3 separate regions of the Homo sapiens genome follow, and regions 1 and 3 are each linked to region 2. Evidence: fine-mapped expression QTL. A gene starts in region 2. Each other region holds a variant in brackets. All regions are shown on one strand. Distances are between the middles of the regions.

The links. PIP is the estimated chance that this variant, and not a neighbour inherited with it, causes the effect. A credible set is the group of variants that fine-mapping cannot tell apart.
Region 1: its variant is the best candidate, but not a certain one, in a credible set for the expression of SLCO4C1 in whole blood (GTEx, PIP 0.52).
Region 3: its variant is the best candidate, but not a certain one, in a credible set for the expression of SLCO4C1 in whole blood (INTERVAL, PIP 0.66).

The regions. Positions count from the first base shown.
Region 1 is chr5:102,349,312-102,356,271 of GRCh38, reverse strand. No RefSeq gene overlaps it. Among named protein-coding and RNA genes, the nearest start is that of SLCO4C1, 57 kb to the right of the region's middle. The variant CT/T (reference allele first, on the strand shown) is at 3,914.
Region 2 is chr5:102,293,404-102,300,363 of GRCh38, reverse strand. It overlaps SLCO4C1 (solute carrier organic anion transporter family member 4C1), which reads left to right and starts at 4,080. Exons shown (of 13, transcript NM_180991.5): 1 at 4,080-4,456. The coding sequence starts at 4,102. RefSeq lists an enhancer at 4,115-4,314.
Region 3 is chr5:102,790,458-102,797,417 of GRCh38, reverse strand. The region is part of intron 1 of PAM (peptidylglycine alpha-amidating monooxygenase); the gene reads right to left. Among named protein-coding and RNA genes, the nearest start is that of PAM, 39 kb to the right of the region's middle. The variant C/A (reference allele first, on the strand shown) is at 3,775.

The sequences.
Region 1 (6,960 bases), 56 kb before region 2:
TAAGGTGTAAGGAATGGATCCAGTTTCAGCTTTCTACATATGGCTAGCCAGTTTTCCCAGCACCATTTATTAAATAGGGAATCTTTTTTCCTATTTCTTGTTTTTGTCAGGATTGTCAAAGACCAGATGGTTGTAGATGTGTGGTGTTATTTCTGAGGCCTCTGTTTTGTTCCATTGGTCTATCTCTGTGTTTTGGTTCCAGTACCATGTAGCCTTGTAGGGTAATTTGAAGTCAGGTAGCATGATGCCTCCAGCTTTGTTCTTTTGGCTTAGGATTGTCTTGGCATTGAGGGCTCTTTTTTGGTTCCATATGAACTTTAAAGTAGTTTTTTCCAATTCTGTGAAGAAAGTCATTGGTAGCTTGATGGGAATGGCATTGAATCTATAAATTACCTTGGGCAGTATGGCCATTTTCACAATATTAATTCTTCCTATCCACGAGCATGGAATGTTCTTCCATTTGTTTGTGTCCTCCTTTATTTCATTGAGCAGTGGTTTGTAGTTCTCCTTGAAGAGGTCCTTCACATCCCTTGTAAGTTGGATTCCTAGGTATTTTATTCTCTTTGTAGCAATTGTGAATGGGAGTTCACTCATGATTTGGCTCTCTGTTTGTCTGTTATTGGTGTATAGGAATGCTTGTGATTTTTGCACATTGATTTTGTATCCTGAGACTTTGCTGAAGTTGCTTATCAGCTTAAGGAGATTTGGGGCTGAGATGATGGGGTTTTCTAAATATACAATCATGTCATCTGCAAACAGGAACATTTTGAATACCTCTTTTCTTAATCGAATACCCTTTATTTCTTTCTCTTGCCTGATTGCCCTGGCCAGAACTTCCAACACTATGTTGAATAGGAGTGGTGAGAGAGGGCATCCCTGTCTTGTGCCAGTTTTCAAAGGGAATGCTTCCAGTTTTTGCACATTCAGTATGATATTGGCTGTGGATTTGTCATAAATAGTTCTTATTATTTTGATATACATTCCATAAATACCTAGTTTATTGAGCATTTCTAGCATGAAGGGCTGTTGAATTTTGTCAAAGGCCTTTTCTTCATCTATTGAGATAATCATGTGGTTTTTGTCATTGGTTCTGTTTATTCGATGGATTATGTTTATTGATTTGCATATGTTGAACCAGCCTTGCATCCCAGGGATGAAGCCCACTTGATCATGGTGGATAAGCTTTTTGATGTGCTGCTGGATTTGGTTTGTCAGTACTTTATTGAAGATTTCCGCATCAGTGTTCATCAGGGATATTAGTCTAAAATTATCTCTTTTTTTGTCTTGTCTCTACCAGGCTTTGGTATCAGGGTGATGCTGGCCTCCTAAAATGTGTTAGGGAGGATTCTCTCTTTTTCTATTGATTGTAATAGTTCCAGAAGGGACGGTACCAGCTCCTCTTTGTACCTCTGGTAGATTTCAGCAGTGAATCCGTCTGGTCCTGGACTTTTTTTGGTTGGTAGGCTATTGATTATGGCCTCAATTTCAGAGCCTGTTATTGGTCTATTCAGAGATTCAACTTCTTCCTGGTTTAGTCTTGGGAGGGTGTATGTTTCCAGGAATTCATCCATTTCTTCTAGATTTTTCAGTCTATTTGCATAGAAGTGTTTATAGAATTCTCTGATGGTAGTTTGTATTTCTGTGGGATCGGTGGTGATATCCCCTTTATCATTTTTTATTATGTCTATTTGATTCTTCTCTATTTTCTTCTTTATTAGTCTTGCTAGCGGTCTATCAATTTTGTTGATCTTTTCAAAAAACCAGCTCCTGGATTCATTGATTTTTTGAAGGGTTTTTTGTGTCTCTATCTCCTTCAGTTCTGCTCTGATCTTAGTTATTTCTTGCCTTCTGCTAGCTTTTGAATGTGTTTGCTCTTGCTTCTCCAGTTCTTTTAATTGTGATGTTAGGGTGTGAATTTTAGATCTTTCCTGCTTTCTCTTGTGGGCATTTAGTGCTATAAATTTCCCTCTAAACACTGCTTTAAATGTGTCCCGGAGATTATGGTACGTTGTGTCTTTGTTCTCATTGGTTTCAAAGAACATTGTTATTTCTGCCTTCATTTCGTTATGTACCCAGTAGTCATTCAGGAGCAGGTTGTTCAGTTTCCATGTAGTTGTGCAGTTTTGAGCGAGTTTCTTAATCCTGCATTCTAATTGTATTGCACTGTGGTCTGAGAGACAGTTGTTGTGATTTCTGTTCTTTTACATTTGCTGAGCAGTGTTTTACTTCTAACTATGTGGTCATTTTTAGAATAAGTGTGATGTGGTGCTGAGAAGAATGTATATTCTGTTGATTTGGGGTGGAGAGTTCTATAGATGTCTATTAGGTGCAGAGCTGAGTTCCTGTGCTGGATATCCTTGTTAACCTTCTGTCTCATTGATCTGTCTAATACTGAGAGTGGAGTGTTAAAGTCTCCCCTTATTATTGTGTGGGAGTCTAAGTCTCTTTTTAGGTCTCTAAGAACTTGCATTATGAATCTAGATGCTCCTGTATTGGGTGCATATATATTTAGGATAGTTAGCTCTTCTTATTGAATTGATCCCTTTACCATTATGTGATGGCCTTCTTTGTCTCTTTTGATCTTTGTTGGTTTAAAGTCTGTTTTATCAGAGACTAGGATTGCAACCCCTGCTTTTTTTTTTCTGGGCTTTCCATTTGCTTGGTAAACCTTCCTCCATCCCTTTATTTTGAGCCTATGTGTGTCTCTGCAGTGAGATGGGTCTCCTAAATACAGCATACGGATGGCTCTTGACTCTTTATCCAATTTGCCAGTCTGTGTCTTTTAATTGGGGCATTTAGGCCATTTACATTTAAAGTTAATATTGTTATATGTGAATTTCATCCTGACATTATGATGTTAGCTGATTATTTTGCTCGTTAGTTGATGCAGTTTCTTCCTAGTATCGATGGTCTTTACAATCTGGCATGTTTTTGCAGTGGCTGGTACTGGTTATTCCTTTCCATGTTTAATTCTTCCTTCAGGAGCTCTTGTAAGGGAGGCATGGTGATTACAAAATCTCTCAGCATTTTCTCATCTGTAAAGGATTTTATTTCTCCTTCACTTAGGAAGCTTAGTTTGGCTGGATATAAAATTCTGGGTTGAAAATTCTTTTCTTTAAGAATGTTGAATATTGGCTCCCACTGTCTTCTGGCTTGTAGAGTTTCTGCCAGGAGATCTGCTGTTAGTTTAATGGGCTTCCCTTTGTGGGTAACCCGACTTTCTCTCTGTCTGCCCTTAACATTTTTTCCCTCATTTCAACCTTGGTGAATCTGACAATTATGTGTCTTGGGGTTGCTCTTCTCGAGGAGTATCTTTGTGGTGTTCTCTGTCTTTCCTGAATTTGAATGTTGGCCTGCCTTGCTAGGTTGGGGAAGTTCTCCTGGATAATATCCTGAAGAGTGTTTTCCAATTTGGTTCAATTCTCCCTGTCACTTTCAGGTACACCAATCAAACGTAGATTTGGTCTTTTCCTGTACTCCCATATTTCTTGGAGGCTTTGTTTGTTTCTTTTTACTCTTTTTTCTCTAAACTTCTCCTCTTGCTTTATTTCACTAATTTGATCTTCAATCATTGATATCCTTTCTTCCACTTGATCAAATTGGCTACTGAAGCTTGTGCATGCATGACATAGTTCTCGTGCCATGGTTTTCATTTCCATCAGGTCATTTAAGGTCATCTCTACACTGTTTATTCTAGTTAGCCATTCATCTAATCTTTTTTTCAAGGTTTTTACCTTCCTTGCAATGGGTTCGAACATCTTCCTTTAGCTCGGAGAACTTTGTTATTACCAACCTTCTGAAGCCTACTTCTGTCAAATTGTCAGGTCATTTTTCATCCAGCTTTGTTCTGTTGCTGGCAATGAGCTGTGATCCTTTGGAGGAGAAGAAACGCTCTAGTTTTTAGAATTTTCAG[CT/T]TTTCTTCTCTGGTTTCTCCCCATCTTTGTGGTTTTATCTGCTTTTGGTCTTTGATGTTGGTGACCTACAGATGGGGTTTTGGTGTGGATGTCCTTTTTGTTGATGTTGATGCTATTCCTTTCTGTTTGTTAGTTTTCCTTCTAACAGTCAGGTCCCTCAGCTGCATGTCTGTTGGAGTTTGCTGGAGGTCCACTCCAGACTCTGTCTGCCTGGGTATCACCAGCAGAGGCTGCAGAACAGCAAATATTCCTGCCTGATCCTTCCTCTGGAAGCTTCATCCCAGAGGGGCACCCACCTGTATGAGGTGTCAGTCAGCCCCTACTGAGAGATGTCTCTCAGTTAGGCAACACGGGGGTCAGAGATCCACTTGAGGAGGCAGTCTGTCCATTCTCAGAGCTCAAACAGCATGCTGGGAGAACCACTGCTTCTTCAGAGCTGTCAGACAGGGAAGTTTAAGTCTGTAGAAGTTTCTGTTGCCTTTCGTTCACCTATGCCCTGCCCTCAGAGGTGGAGTCAATAGAGGCAGTAGGCCTTGCTGAGCTGTGGTGGGCTTCTCCCAGTTCAAACTTCTAAGCTGTGTTGTTTGCCTACTCAAGCCTCAGCAATGGTGGATGCCCCTTCCCCTGCCAGGCTGCTACCTGGCAGGTCCATCTCAGACTGTGTGCTAGCAGAGAGCAAGGCTCTGTGGGCATGGGACCCACCTAGCCAGGTGCGGGAGAGAATCTCCTGGTCTCCCGTTTGCTAAGACCATTGGAAAAGTGCAGTATTTAGGTGGGAATGTCCCATTTTTCCAGGTACAGTCTGTCATGGCTTCCCTTGGCTAGGAAGGGGAAATCCCCGGACCCCTTGTACTTCCCAGGTGAGGTGATGCTCCGCCCTGCTTCAGCTCACCTTCCATGGGCTGCACCCACTGTCCAACCAGTCCCAATGAGATGAACCAGGTACCTCAGTTGGAAATGCAGAAATCACCTGTCTTCTGCATTGATCACGCTGGGAGCTGCAGACTGGAGCTCTTTCTATTCAGCTGTCTTGGAACACCTACCCCATTGTATCATTCTTATGCTTTTGCATCCTCATAGCTTAGCTCCCACTTACAAGTTAGAATATATGATATTTGGTTTCCAATCCTGAGTTACTTCACTTAGAATAATGGTCTCCAACTCCCTCCAGGTTGCTGCAAATGCCATTATTTCATTTCTTTTTATGGCTGAGTAGTATTCCATGGTGTATTTGTAGCACATTTTCTTTATCCACATGTTGGTTGACAGGAATTTAGGCTCATTCTGTATTTTCGCAATTGCGAATTGTGCTATAAACTTGCGTGTGCAAATATCTTTTTAATATAATGACTTCTTTTCCTTTGGGTGGATACCCAATAGTGAGACTACTGGATCAAATGGTAGTTCTACTTTTAGTTCTTTAAGGAATCTCCTTTCTGTTTTCCACAGGGGTGGTGCTAGGTTACATTCTCACCAGCAGTGTAAAAGTGTTCCCTTTTAACCAAATCCATGACAATATCTGTTATTTTTTTACTTTTTGATTATGGTCATTCTTGCAGGAGTGAGGTGGTATCTCACTGTAGCTTTAATTTGCATTTCCCTGATAATTAATAATGTTGAATTCTTTTCATATGTTTGTTGGCTATTTTATGTCTTCTTTTGAGAATTGTCTATTCATGTCCTCAGACCACTTTATGATGGTATTATTTCTTTTTTCTTGCTGATTGGAGTTCCTTGTAGATTTGGAAATTAGTCTCTTGTCAGATGCATAATTTGTGAATGTTTTCTCTCACTCTTTGAGTTGTCTGTTTACTCTGCTATTTATTTCTTTTGCTGTGCAGAAACTGTTTAGTTTAATTAGGTCCCATCTATTTATTTATTTATTTGTTGCATTTGCTTTTGTGTTCTTGGTCATGAAGTCTTTGCCTAAGCCAACATCAGTTTTTCCAATGTTATCTCTGGAATTTTTATGGCTTCAGATCTTAGATTTAAGTTTTTTATCCATCTTGAGTTGATTTTTGTATAAGGTGAAAGATGAGCATCCAGTTTAATTTGTCTATGTGTGGCTTGCCAATTATCCCAGCACTATTTGTTAAATAGGGTGTTTTTTCCCCAATTTATATTTTTGTTTGCTTTGTTGAAGATCAGTTGGTTGTAAGTAATTGACCCTGTTTCTGGGTTCTCTATTCTGTTCCATTGGTCTATGTGCCTGTTTTTATATTAGTACCATGCTATTTGGTAACTATAGCCTTGTAGTATAGTTTGAAGTTGGGTAATGTAATACCTCCTGAATTGTTCTTTTTGCTTAGTCTTGCTTTGGCTATTCAGGCTCTTTTTTTTTGTTTCATATGAATTTTAGGATTTTTTTTCCTAGTTATGTGATGAATAATGATGGTATTTTGATGGGAATTGCACTGAATCTGTAGATTTCTTTTGGCAATATAGTCATTTTCACAATGTTGATTCTACCCATCCATGAGCATATGTTTCCATTTGTTTGTGTCATCTGTGATTTCTTTCAGCAGTGTTTTGTAGTTTTCTTTATAGAGATCTTTCCCCTCTTTGGTTAGGTATATTCCTAAGTGTTTTTTCATTTTGCAGCTGTTGTAAAAGGGATTGAGTTCTTGCTTTGTTTCTCAGCTTTATCATTGTTGGTGTATAGCAGTTCTACTGATTTGTGTATATTGATTTTTGCATCCTGAAAGTATACAGAATTTATCTGTCAGATCTAGGAGCTTTTTGGATAAGTCTTCAGAGTTTTCCAGATATATAATTATATCATTGGCAAACAGCAACAGTTTGACTTCCGTTTTACTGATTTGGATGCCCTTTACTTCTTTATCTTGTCTGATTGCTCTGGCTATTACTTCTAGTACTGGATTGAATAGAAGTGGTGAAAGTGGGCATCTTTGTCTTATTCCCGTTCTCAGGGGGAATGCTTTCAACTTTTCCCTGTTCAGGATGATGTTGGCTGTGGATTTGTCATAGATACCTTTTATTACCTTGTGGTTTGCCCCTTATATGTCAATTTTGTTGAGAGTTTTTA
Region 2 (6,960 bases):
TTAGTAGATACGGGTTTTCACCGTGTTGCCCCGGCTGGTCTCGAACTCCTGAGCTCAGGCAATCCTCCTGCCTTGGCCTCCCAAAATGCTGGGATTACAGGCATGGGCCACCGTGCCTGGCTTATGTATGTATTTCTTAATGATTTATGATGAATAAGATGAAAAGAAAAAGTACAGTTGCATTTCTTCTCAATATGATTATATATTTATGTGTAATTGCAATTTAAAACAGTATTAAAAACAATACAGTTCAGTGTTAATTTTTTTCTTAGATTTAACTTATTATTTTTAACTATATGTTTTGTGAAACATTTAAAACTGAAAAGATAAATCAATAATACTAAGATGGTCACTTAGATTGTCTGGTTGCTTTTATTCAGTTAATATAAGATGCTGTGATATTAATAAACCGTTAATACTAGGATTTGTAATTAACCTCAACGATATTCACATTTGACCATGTTTGTAATCAGCCACTGTCAAGATCCCTCTAATTTTAATATTCTATGAGCTCATAGTGTTATACTGCTAAAGGGTTCACATTTAGTCTAAAACCAGAAGGGAACTAATAAAGCATTAACAACACAGAGGGGAAAATGATAAAGTACTCAAGATAGGCATATCAATACATTTTCATCCAGTATACATATCTACATGGAAGGCCCAAATCATAAGATCGCTCTTAAGCATGGAATCAGAGCAAGGGGAGTTAGTAGGACAATCTTGATAACTTCTGTCATTAAGCCACTTCACCTTGTTTCATCCAATTCCTGAAAGGAAAGACCTACTGCACATCCCAGAGAATGATATCCAGAGGCAGGGACTGCTTCTGTTTACAGTGTGGGAGCCTTACCATAAATTTTGGACATTCTCTTTCTCCCATTCTCCACCCTTTAAAAACATAGCAAATAAAATGTACTATAAGAAGAGTAAAGTATCAATTACCTTCTGAAATTTAAGATGGTATATTTTGACTGTGTTCATTAGAGGCAGATTTAACCTAGATTGACCAAACAATTAATTTTAAAATGGACGTTTTTCCATAGAATTATCAGGGATGAAAACTAACAATTTTTCTTTCCTATTTTTGTTTTTTGGTTTTTGTTGCAAACCGAAGCCCCTTCCATCACTGCAGCATAAAGAATGTAAGGGAACAGGAAATTGAAACTTTCAGTAAGAGCAAGATGTATTTAAGATGAAGCAATAGTAATTTTGCTAATCTTTAACCAAAATTCTCTCTCTAACACTGTGAGAGTGGAGATTTCTCCTTAGTATGAATTTAAGTGCACGATGATTATGCTACTCTGATTTTGATAGTATAGCATGGATTTATTAAGTCACAGCTGCAAAATAGTCTTAAGCCATGATTGTATGTAATCACATCCCATCAAAACAAAATTTTCTGGTTGTGTAAATTACTTCGTATTCCATAGATAAAATGGTGATCAAAATAGTTACCTACTTTGAGTCCATTTTTGTAGAAAGCAAGCCCAGGAAGATTACATACCATGCTTAATTTGAATACCTCCAAAATCTAGGTTTTCAGAGCAGCATTAATCTTCTAAGCCTCACGAATATCACAGAATTTTGAATTTTGATCTCTTAAAATTGCTATGCAATAATTTAACCTGATGGAGATACACTGTAGTTATTAAAAGACAGAAAATGCAAAGTTTAGGGAAGACTTCTGGCTAAGAGAGCCGAGTTCAGATCCTTAAGTGGCAGTTCACTTATTAGCTATGTGACTTTGGGACAGTTACTAATTCTTTATGGGATATGGTTTCCTCAATATGTAAACTATATATAACAGTGCAGCTGCTTTTGTAAAGATTTTAATAATGGGGCATATAGCAGACATTTTAAATGTTAGCTCCTACTTCTACTCTTTCCCCATGTTTTAGGCCAATCTAGAATTTATTTTTATTTTTAATTCTTATTTTTTTGAGACAAGGTCTGGCTCTATGGCACAGCTGGAGTACTCATTGCAACCTCACCCTCCCAGGTTGTAAGCGACCCTCCCACCTCAGCCTCCCAAGTATCTGGAACTACAGGCGTGCACCACCATGCCAGGCTAAGTTTTGCATTTTTGGTAGAGACAGGGTTTTGTCGTGTTGCCCAGGCTGGTCTCAAACTCCTGGACTCAAGGCACCCACCTTGGCCTCCCAAAGTACTGGGATTACAGGCCTGCACCTCTGCGCCCGGCTGGCCAGTCTAGAGTTTTCTCGATTGTGAGGAAACAGGTAACAGAATGTACCTCTGTCCAAAGTAAGATACATATTTTATATCTGTCTCTCAACCCAGTAAACACAGCATATATAATTGAAACAAAAGTTTCACAAAATAGTATTTATCATATTATGTGCCATGTACTATGTATTATTACTGTCTGTTTCCTATTAAAACATAAGCACCATAAGGGTAGGGGTATTTGCCAGTCTTTGTTCACTTGTGTACCCCCAGAACTTAGAACAATGTTTGGCACCTAGGACACAAGAATTTTTTGTGTCTGTGTTAAGTGAAAGAATGAATGACTAAATTGTACCTACCATGACACAATGGTGTTAAGCTCTTCGAAGTGTTTTTCTTATTTATTCCACAGTTAGACATGTATTATTATTATTATTATTATTATTAAGAGACAGAGTTTCACTCTTTCACCCAGACTGGATTGAAGTGGCACAATCTCGGTTCACTGTACCCTCCACCTTCCGAGTTCAAATGATTCTCCTGCCTCAGCCTCCCAAGTAGCTGGGATTACAGGCCTGCACCACCACACCTGGCTAATTTTTGTATTTTTAGTAAAGACAGTGTTTCACCATGTTGGCCAGGCTAATCTTGAACTCCTGACCTCAGGTAATCCACCCGCCTCAGCCTCCCAAAGTGCTAGGATTACAGGCGTGAGCCACCGCGCCTGGCCCGGTAGAAATTATTTACATGATTGTCATCACTGTATATCTTACATATGCAATATACAGCAGAGAGACAATTTCTGGTCCTTCAGTTTCGGAGAAGGAAAAGCAAAGCAGTGGTTATGCTGTGATGTTCATCCTGGTGGTGATGGGGGTGGGGTGGGGTGGATTTCTTTTTCTAAGGAGGACTGAGGCAGGAAAATAGGGTCTGGAGGCAGGAAACATAAGGCCTATTCACACTTCAGCTGTAACAGGAAATATCCTCTCCATAGGGCGTAGGCCATAAATGACTTTGTAACTTTACTTCATCTTCTCCCTTTACATAGGGCATACCCAAAGTAACCAATGGAATCCTCTAGGGGGTATTTAAACTCCCCAAAATTCTGTAACCGGGCCTTTGAGCCCCTATGCTCGCCCGTTCCCACACTGTGGAGTGTACTTTCATTTTCAATAAACCCCTTCATTCCTTCCTTGCTTTGTTTGTGCGTTTTCTTCAATTCTTTCTTCAAGATGCCAAGAACCTGGACACCTTCTACCAGTAACAGGATGACAGGCAAGAGTCTTATCAAGATGCTCATGAACCAAAGTATACCTCTGACGTCTTGATTCTTGGAGTCCAAGCCTAGACTGCTTTGGTAAGCAGCAAAGGAAGAAAACGCAAGATAGTTTCCTGAACAATCTCCTGATGCAACTGTTTACAGGTTTCATGTCAGCACCCAAGGGGAGCTTATGGCCAGAGACTCCCACAGTCTCTGTGTGTTCCCAGTGCTTGGGCTCAAGGGAGGCGCGCTGCGGGCTGAAGGCTCAGGTCAGAACCGCAGGGGCTTGGGCGGAGGCGGACTCCGGTCGAAGGCTGTGGGGTGAGAACTCTCGCCCCCTCTACTCGGCCGCCGCCGGGTGGCACGCCCACGCCGCGCCTTCCGGTTGGTCCTTGAGGCGACGGGTGAGGCACAGCTGAGCGCCAAAGCCACAGGCTGGGGCGCTAACGCCCCCGCTCAGCGCTCTGCGCTCCAGACAGCTGCGAGCTGGAGTAGGAAGGTTCAGGCGGTGGCGGAGAGTGCGCTGGAGGCTGGAGGGCCAGGAGGCGGGAAGCTTCCCGCACGGGGGCGCTGTCACCTGCCTGTGGGAGGAGCCAGAGAGGGACCTGGCTCTGCTGCTCTGAAGCACCGGAGTCGGGAGAACCCATCCAGACATGAAGAGCGCCAAAGGTATTGAGAACTTGGCTTTTGTCCCCTCCAGCCCAGACATCCTGCGCCGCTTGTCTGCGTCGCCCTCCCAAATCGAAGTCTCTGCCTTGTCCTCTGACCCCCAAAGAGAGAATTCTCAGCCACAGGAGCTTCAGAAGCCCCAGGAGCCCCAGAAGTCACCAGAGCCATCTCTGCCTTCAGCCCCTCCCAATGTCTCCGAAGAGAAGCTCCGGTCACTGTCGCTGTCCGAGTTTGAGGAGGGGTCTTACGGCTGGAGGAACTTCCATCCTCAATGTCTCCAGCGCTGCAACACACCTGGAGGCTTTCTGCTTCACTACTGCCTCTTGGCCGTCACGCAAGGTAAAGTCCAGCGCCCGCTTGAGGCTCGGGCCAGTGGAGAGCGAGGTGGGCACGGCGAGCCAGCCGGGGGAGAGGGCAGGTGCGCGGGGTCCGTGGGACGGTGGACGCGCCCTGCAAGGTGGCCCCGGGTTTGGAACTTGCTTGCGCTCTCACCAAGGTCAACCTACCGGCCCCCAGCCAGCCTTCCAAAGTTCAGCTTCTCCTTTATCACTACAGTTCAAACTTGCAATACAAGCCTTTTTCTCTTTTGTGTTTTACCTCAGTTTAGCGGATTCAAGACTTACAGGGAAGATTACAAGAACCTTCCTTTGGGAAAGGTATACCCTGGGGAGTTTATTTTACATTATAAAGACAAAAATTTACCTAGGCACTCTTTAAAGGTATTTTACTTTTACATTTGTTTCATTGCCTCAGGGGAAGGAGTAATACGTTTGCAGGTGGGAGTGGGATGCCTTACAAGGAAGAAAGCTATGAAAAATCTATCGTATAAATTAGATACAGACATTCATGTTTTGTGAGTGTATTTAGTTTGAGAGTATGTGGTCACCAGAGGAGCCCAGTGAGTAAATTAGCAAAGGCTCCCGACGTTGTTGAGCCTTAATCTTCATTGTGTTACATTAGTTATCCAGCATCTGTTTTGTTCTAGGATCTCTTTTAGGTTCTCTTGGGAGTTACAGATTCAGTTCAGATTTATACCCTCAGGGGCTTGCAATCTAAGCTCAGTTTGGAGGAGTGATATCCTGGAGGGAGAACAGCTCCCTTGAAAGAAGGCACAGGGAAGGTTAAAGCTGCTTCTGGTGTGTTCAATACAGAGGTTGAAGGAAAATAGGAAGTTAACCTGAGTTGACTTTGAGGAAGGGTGGAGAAGAGGTGGAGAGGAGTCAAGAAGGACATGCCGAAGCTTAGCTGAATTGGAATGTAGATATTTTTTGGTCACTTGAGTCATAGTCCGAGAATATTTTCTGTATAATCAGTCAAGGATTAATTGGAAGAAATACAACCTTAGAAATATAGATTTTAGAGGGTTGGAAACAGCTCATTTTTTAAGTTAATAGAAAACTAAGTCAAAGCCTAAGTATACTTTTTGTTCTTATTCTTCCTCTTCAAGGAACCCAGGGCCCCTTGCTTTGCGCATTAGATGCTAAGTAACCATTTATTGATTGCAAGTCCGCTGCAGCTCTTCTACTGAAGGTAGATTTGTGTTGAAGAATTATTTCCCTGTCCACTTTTCTTGTCCCTACCAAAGTTCCCCTCCATTAATGTCTTGATCATAGTTTTACAAAATTGGTAATTGTGAAGCATCTCAGTGTCAAAGGAATGCGAAGATAAAAAAGTTGGACACAAGTAAAAAATGTCTTATCTTGTGTATTATCTTAAAATTCCTCTGAAATTTCTATATTATTCCAAAATATAACATTTTATATTTAATATAAAATATTGCCTAAAATTGTTATCAAATGTAATTGTCACTCCTAGAAAATTTGTCAGGTTTAGTCTGGAGCAGCATCTACCCAGAGGTCCCCAATTTAAGAAGCTTAATCTGAGATAATAGTGACCCAATAGGCTGGGCATGGTGGCTCACGCCTGTAATCCCAGCACTTTGGGAGGCCGAGGCGGGCGGATCAGTTGAGGTCAGAACTTGGATACCAGCCTGGCCAACATGGTGAAACCCGTCTCTACTAAAAATACAAAAAATTATGGCCGGGCGCCGTGGCTCACGCCTGTAATTGCAGCACTTTGGGAGGCTGAGGCAGGCAGATCAACTGAGGTCAGGAGTTCGAGACCAGCCTGGCCAACACGGTGAAACCCCGTCTCTACCAAAAATACAAAAACTAGTTGGGCATTGTGGCGCATGCCTGCAATCCCAGCTACTTGGAGGGCTGAGGTGGGAAAAACACTTGAACCCAGGAGGCGGAGTTTGAAGTGGACCGAGATCGTGTCATTGCACTCCGGCCTAGGCAACAGAGGGAAACTCTGTCTCAAAACAAAACAAAACACCACAAAAATTAGCCGGGTGCGGTGGCACACGCCTGTAGTCCCAGCTATTCAGGAGGCTGAGGCACGAGAATGGCTGGAACCCGGGAGGTGGAGGTTGCAGTGAGCCGAGATGGCGCCACTGCACTCCAGCCTGGTGACAGAGCGAGGCAAGGTCTCAAAAAAAAGTATAATAATAAAAAGTGTGACCCAATAAATTACTAGTTTACGTTTCAGTTTAAGTTTGAATGCCTGAAAACTTTATTGCCATGTTTCTCAAACATGATCCTTAAGATCATTTCCATGGTATATTTAAATATACATTTAATTGGAAAGAAAAACAAAATTTCTCGAATGAGTTTATTTAACCCAGCATTTCTCAAAGACAAACAGGGATTCTCTAAGTACTTAATTTTCTAATGTGCTTCCTATTGTCATTCATTTACAACAGAGAGATGTAGTATGGAGCGTTTCCTGATTTTTTTGTTTTTGTTTTTTTAAGTAGTGTTCTTGGAACTTGTATAGCATAG
Region 3 (6,960 bases), 500 kb before region 2:
AGGGTGAGGTTATATTCTAAATGTTTATGAATGTGATGGCTCAGAAATACACTCACCATGACATATTAATTTTAAAATAATATTTAATAATGATCTTATGATTTAGAGCATTCACATTGGATTTTTAAAAGCACCATGTCTATTATGAGAGAAATGAAAGTTACAGAAGATACATAAAATAACCAGTTCCATGGCTGTTGTTGTCTCCTTTTCCAATAAAAATAAGAGACTCATTATTATTCCTGGGATTCTTAGGACAATCTCTTTTATGCCAGTAGTCTTCTGAAGAATGACCCAACAGTCCTTTGGTATGTTAAAGATATTCTTTAAGTCTGTTTTTTACAGAAGAAGCAAAACACCAGCCCTTGTGCTGTTGCACATTCAAAATAATTCACAATTCATTTTTGTTTAGCATTTTGAAACTTGGCAATGAAGCATATGGCTCTCTATCATTATTCTATTATTAGGTTCCATTAGCAATAATTAGATAAATGGTCATTTAGCACTTTGTACAACCAGGTACTGAGTTAAGTGTTAGACACACCTTAATGCATTCAATCCATGTAACGACTTTATGACACAGGTAATATCTATTACCATTTTACAAATAAGAAAACCAAGGCACAAAGAGGTTAAGCAGCTTGCTCATAGTTACACAGATAGCAGATGACTATTTCAAAAAGGGAAATTTATAGCTTCCCTCATGTAAGATGAGGGAATGTGAGCTTCTGAATGTGATGAGCAAACGAAAGAAAATGAAGGAGGCAAAGTACAAAGAGAGTTGAATGAAAGGACTGAATTGAAAGAAATGCTTTCTCTTTCACAATTTTCTCTAATCTTATTTGGCTGACTGTGGTGCTCAAAAAAATGACAATAAACAGGTAAGAGAATTATAATCTTACCAAGAGCAAAGATGACTCCTACCAGACTCCTACCAGACACTAGGAAGATCAATTTTTCTTGCCTTATTTAAAAGGTGAATTTCCACTGTGTGGAACTGCAAATATCCAATCTCATTGCCCAAACTCTGGGATGACATCTGGGAAATAAATAAACATTTTGGTACCATGTCAGATTCCCTGGTTGCAGAGGCACAGATCGATCTATGAGTCCTAGACTATTGACCGACAAACCTGGTTCCTAACATGGATTGCAGGTGACCTTTGGAGACTGACTTCATGAAGGGCCCATGGAGCTCACAGACTATTAGCTACAGAGGGTCCAACTCCACTGGTGTTGCCCTCATTAACTTGAACAAATAAAAACTTGTTTGTACAGATCTCAAATTACCTCCTGTTACAAATGTCCAGTGCCTCTTCCAAGGGCCCAGATCCAAAAATCTGTCAACAGATCACAGGAGTTTTTGCTGAGGCTGGTGCATATTCTGATTTGTTTGGATCATTTAGAAGCCTTTAAACAAAATATCACAGGCCTCTAAATCTTCAAGTATAAACTAAAAAAAATAACTCATGGTTAATAAACTATGAACTCCAACAAAATGTGTCTGACAAAATGGAAATTGTAAAACATTTCAGGAAAAAATGCACTAAACTCTCTGATAATGAGGTTGGAAAAGATTCCCTTTTCCGCACCCAAAACAAAGGAATGAAAATCCCTGCTTTAAGTGAAGAGAGTTGCCATTTATTTTATGGCTGAAGACCAAATTATACATATTTTTGTGACTTTCCGTTAGGGATCAAGGTCAATCACCAGATTTTTCTCTCACACCAACCACACGGCAGCAGCACAAATACGTATGTTCCTCATCCCTTTCACTGTGAATTTTTAATTTTGGTTTTCCCTCTCAGAGCAGCTAAGATTTCTTCATTTGTCAAAAGGGTAGCCATTAAGAAAGTCATTTAGTTAATAAACAAGGAAATTAGCTAGCCTGATACAAAACAGATAGTAACAACACTAACAGCAATCTGTACACGCAAATTAAAGCAGCGAGAGTTGCTCTGATAAGCACTTTTAAACTGTTAGTGGTACTCCAAAAACGGCATCACCAGTATTAGAGGTTAGACAGCAGTTTAAAACATTTCTTCCTGTCTCATTTGGTTCCTGCAAAAATCTCAATAGTAATTTTTGAGTTTTACCTAAGGATGTGCAGAGAAAGACATCAGTAGAAAGAGGAAACAAGAAGTATCAAAGTAGGATAACTCATCTCCCATTCCAAGCACTTTTCTTTTTCTTTTTCTTCTCTTCTTTTTTTTTTTTTTTTTTTTTTTGAGACATTGTCTCACTTTGTCACCCTGGCTGGAGTGCAGTGGTGCCATCATGACTCACTATGGCCTCAACCTCCCGGGTTCAAGTGATTCTCCTGCCTCAGCCCCACAAGTAGCTGGGACTAACAGAGCCCACCACCACTCCCAGCTAATTTTTTTATTTTTTGTAGAGATGGGGTTTCCCTATGTTGACCAGGCTGGTCTCCAACTCCTGGGCACAAGTGATCTGCGAGCCTCAGCCTGCCAGAGTGCTAGGATTACAGGTGTGAGCCACCGCACCTGGCCCCAAGCATTTTCCTGCATCTTCTTTTGTTACTCTTTGGAGCAACCAGCTAATGCTTGTTTAAGTTTGAGGAAAGCCAAATAACCTAAGTAAACAACACAATGGACACAGGACTTGTAAATCTCATGAAAGACAATGCCAGATTTTAAAGTACATAGTCATCAAACAAAAAAATTAGCATCAGAATGTTCATAGCCACATGTAAATGTTCTATATTTTTTAAGCTGATAATCTCTATTTAATTTGTACATGTAATAATTTTTTGGTGGTGGAATCAGCATAAATATAAATATCACTGTTTCATATTGAATCAAACTATCTTCAGTTTTCTACAAAAAAAATAAATCTTTTTTTTCACCTAACCTTCCTTGGTACAAAAATTAAATCTTTCTTAATATAGAATAGGAAGAATCTGCTAATTCAATAATACTAATTTCTTTTTTGCTGATTAAAAAAGGAATGAAAAAAATCTCCTCATCTAGTCACTTCCTATAAAATGCTTGAAATGCTTTGTTCACCATTGGCTTTAATAATTCCTTCCTTCAGTTGGTGGAAAATGTATCTGAATCAGTAAGAATCTACTTCTGCCAATTCCTTTCAGGAAGACAACCTTCCACCTACTGAAATCACACCTCCACTCCAGGCTGTAGCCATTCCCAGCCTCCCTCCTTCACCTCAGTGGGACCTTGTTATCCTGATCCGCACAGCATTATGCTGAACTCCCAAGATAAGGGGAACAGAAAATAACCAGTAACAGGTATACATGTTTAAACTATCATTAAAATAGTTCTATAAAATAGAAAGCCAGAGTCTCAAGGGGGTAGCTGGCCAAGGATAAATAAACCACTTCAAGTATAATATAAATTCAAAAGTGTTAAATAAATAATAAATTTTACTTAAATCTACCAAATAAAAAGATAAGTAGTTATATAAATATGGTCAATACATTTTTTAAAAAGAAAAAAATATGCATTTAATTTGTTAAACCAAAATACTCAGATAAATATAGCATAATATATTCAATACATATTTCACATATTGCTGACTTTAAAAGTTTTTTATTCTAAGTATAAAAGTAATCTTCTCTTACTATAATCACTACAAATTGATAAATTAATTGTGTATATAAACTTAGGATAAAATACTTGCTATAATTACTTAAAGCATTTAATATTTTCAAAAGTGTTTTAAAATCTGTTCCTGGCTCAGTTTCTTAAATGACCAGGGATATTTCTATATTGCTGCTTGTCTGAGCTTTGAAAAAAA[C/A]CAGTACTTAAAATGCTGCATTTAAGCAATAGCTGTTTTAGTTAAATACATTCTAATAGTTCCAAAATTTCAAACATTTCCACTGACAAGTGTCTTTGGTTGTTGTTTTGTTTTGAGACAGTGTCTCACTCTGTCACCCAGGCTGGAGAGCAGTGGTGCGATCAGGCTCACTGCAGCCTCCACCTCCCAGGCTCAAGCAATCCTCCCACGTCAGCCTCCCAAATAGCTAGTACCACAGGTGTGTGCCACCATGCTCAGCTATTTTTTTTTTCATTTTTTTTTGAAGAGACAGGGGTCTCCCTATGTTGCCCAGACTGCTCCCAAACTCCTGGGCTCAAGGGATCCTCCGAATCTGCCAAAGTGCAGGGGTTACAGGCATGAGCCACTGCACCCAGCCCAATTTACAAGTCTTTAACTTAAACATTAGAAATGGAAAAGCCTAGGCACTTTGGACTTAATTTACACGGAGGGAATTTTAAACGCAAAGAATCTTCGGTGTTCTATAAAAAATTCACACATTCAGAGAAGGTATCTTACCTAATTTTTAAAGGAAGAAAGGAAAAAGTATGAGTAAAACATTATTTTAGTGGAGAATGTTGTGCTCCTATGAGGCCCAAGATTCATAACCAACCATGATGCCAAAGGGGAGATTTTTTTAGAGGAATGAAAAAATTATTCCAATGTTACTTGATCAACACTAGACTCCACTAGGAGGCACTCTGAACTTACGTGCTACTGTATGACCTAATACTTTTGTGTCACTTTTTGTGTGTGTGTGGCTGCAGAAAGCACATTTCCTGCTCATAATCAAAGTGTCAGCCAGTAAGAGACCACCATAATAACTGTGGTAGGAGCCTCAAAAACTGAAGCTGTATTCTGATTTGTAAGAAAACCAATGGTAATCATGTGTTACAAACTCTTCACTTGATAAAATGATGGTTTCAGGGTTCCTTTAAATAGGGAAGACTTCTAATGTACTGAGAAGAGATTCCAAATTACAAATACTAAATTTGTCATCAGCCTTTCATGTTATTACACTGCCCCATTCCAACTCTTCACAATGCCAGTCAGTGGCAAATGGGTTACCATGCATTATGTTTTTAAAAGCAGAAAAGAGTGCACACAAAGTGCCCAAAGGCAACCAAAAAGACCTTAACAGCCAATTGCTTGGCAAATAGATAAAGAAGAAAAAAGTTTATGTAATTGCTACCTGCTTTTTATACAAACACATGTATTTCCTGGAACATGGTAAATGTTTGTTTTGAAAGTAACCTCCATAGTCTTTCCCCACGTCGTTTATCAGTACTGGATTGGAGAGCAGTTTATGACAATAAAGATTTCATTTACCTTTAATATTTTTCTCAACATTAAGATTTTAGATTACTTTTGTCACTTCTTATTCCCTCCAGCATATACACAAACCCACATATACACACACATTAATGTTAAGCTTCATATGTCTAAGGTGAATTTCCTAAATTCCATACATACCATGTTTAAATATAAATTACAACCCCCAAACAATAAATGGCTCTAATCTCCACTTGTGAAAAAAAAGAAGGATCAAAGAGTTTGTCAAACACTCTGCTGTAAAGAACACAAATCTGAGCAATAGTCCATTTTTTATGTTCACCCTTATTAGTATGGGTACAACTTCTCCCAATGTTTGTATATTGCCCAGTAAAGATGACATCTGGTGTTGTTTCAACAATATTTGGAGTAATGAAGCAGATCCAAATTAAAATGTTCCCTATAGCTATATTTTCCTTCAAGAAACTCCTACGATGTCCTAGATAAAACCCTAGAAACAGGCTATGTGAAACTACCTGGTTTATCTATTGTAAGACTAAATACAACTAATTAATTGACAGGATTTCAACCCAGGGTTGAAAGAAGGGAATTTACTACAGTATGCCTATCTTGCATTCAGAAACAAACCCCAAATAAAGTTAGCTATCTAAAGAGGTTTTTTGGTTTGGTTTTAAAATTTATTTTATTTTTTCTTCAGTAACACTTGGCAAAATGTTGAAAACAGAAGAATCTGCTGGAGAAAAAGTAGTTGCAAAAGAAATAAAATACAACTGGGTTAATGTCTTTAACACATAAATAAGTCTTACAAATATAAAAGAAAAGAGGAAAACATCAACAGAGTAACCACATGTAGAAGTAAAAATAATATAAAAATGTTCAAAAATAATATAAAAAATGTTCATGTTATCAATCCAAGTTATAACGTATTCTTGAATTGGCAGTTAAAAAAAAGAAAGCTAATTTCAGGCTGGGAAATGGGTGTTCTCATACAGACTGCCACAGAAATATAAACTGTCACATGGCTTTTTTAAAGAACAATTTGGCATATACGTATCAAACACATAAAAATATCCACACTCTTCTACTTAATTTTACTTCTAGAAATTTATTTTAAGAAAGTAGAGATAGGAAAAAATTAATCTAAAAGTATTTTCATCAGAGTGTCATTTATAACAGCAAAAACAAATTTCTAAGATCCCAATAATAGAGGACTGATAGAGGCATAAAATAAAATGTAATGCAGCTACTTAGATGCAGCTGTAAAAGAACATTTAGTGACAGGAGAAAATGTTCACTATCTAATGCTCAGTGAAAAATATTGCTCAGTTATCTTAATTTTATGTCTTATGGTTTTGAATCTCTGTTTGTATATGTGCATATATGCATGAACAGAACAGCAGAATGGCTGACACACAAACAAATGATATCAGTGCTTATCTCTGGGTAGTAAAATAATGGGTAATTTAAAAATATTGTCTTCTTTGTGCTTATGTTTTTTTGCATTTGACAATTTTTCATAATGAACAAGTATAATTCAAGAAAACAATGGGGGGAAATATAATTGCTCAGAAAAATAAAATTATGTGACTTCTTATATCTGATGCTCAGTTTCTGATAACTAGAATAGCACTGCTGAGAATAATGAAAATAGTGTTCTGTAAGAGGCTAAAATTGATTCTATGCCCACAGAAATGAAGAGAGAGGCATCGCTTCTCTACCTGGCAAAAGTATCTCTGTCTAACCTAATACCATATGAAGAAGCTCTATCTAACCTAATACCACACTATTAGGATAGGTTTCTCATCACTTAGATCTATTCCCAGGATAATAGTCAAATCATCCTCATAAGAACCACAGGCTTATTGAAAGCTACTG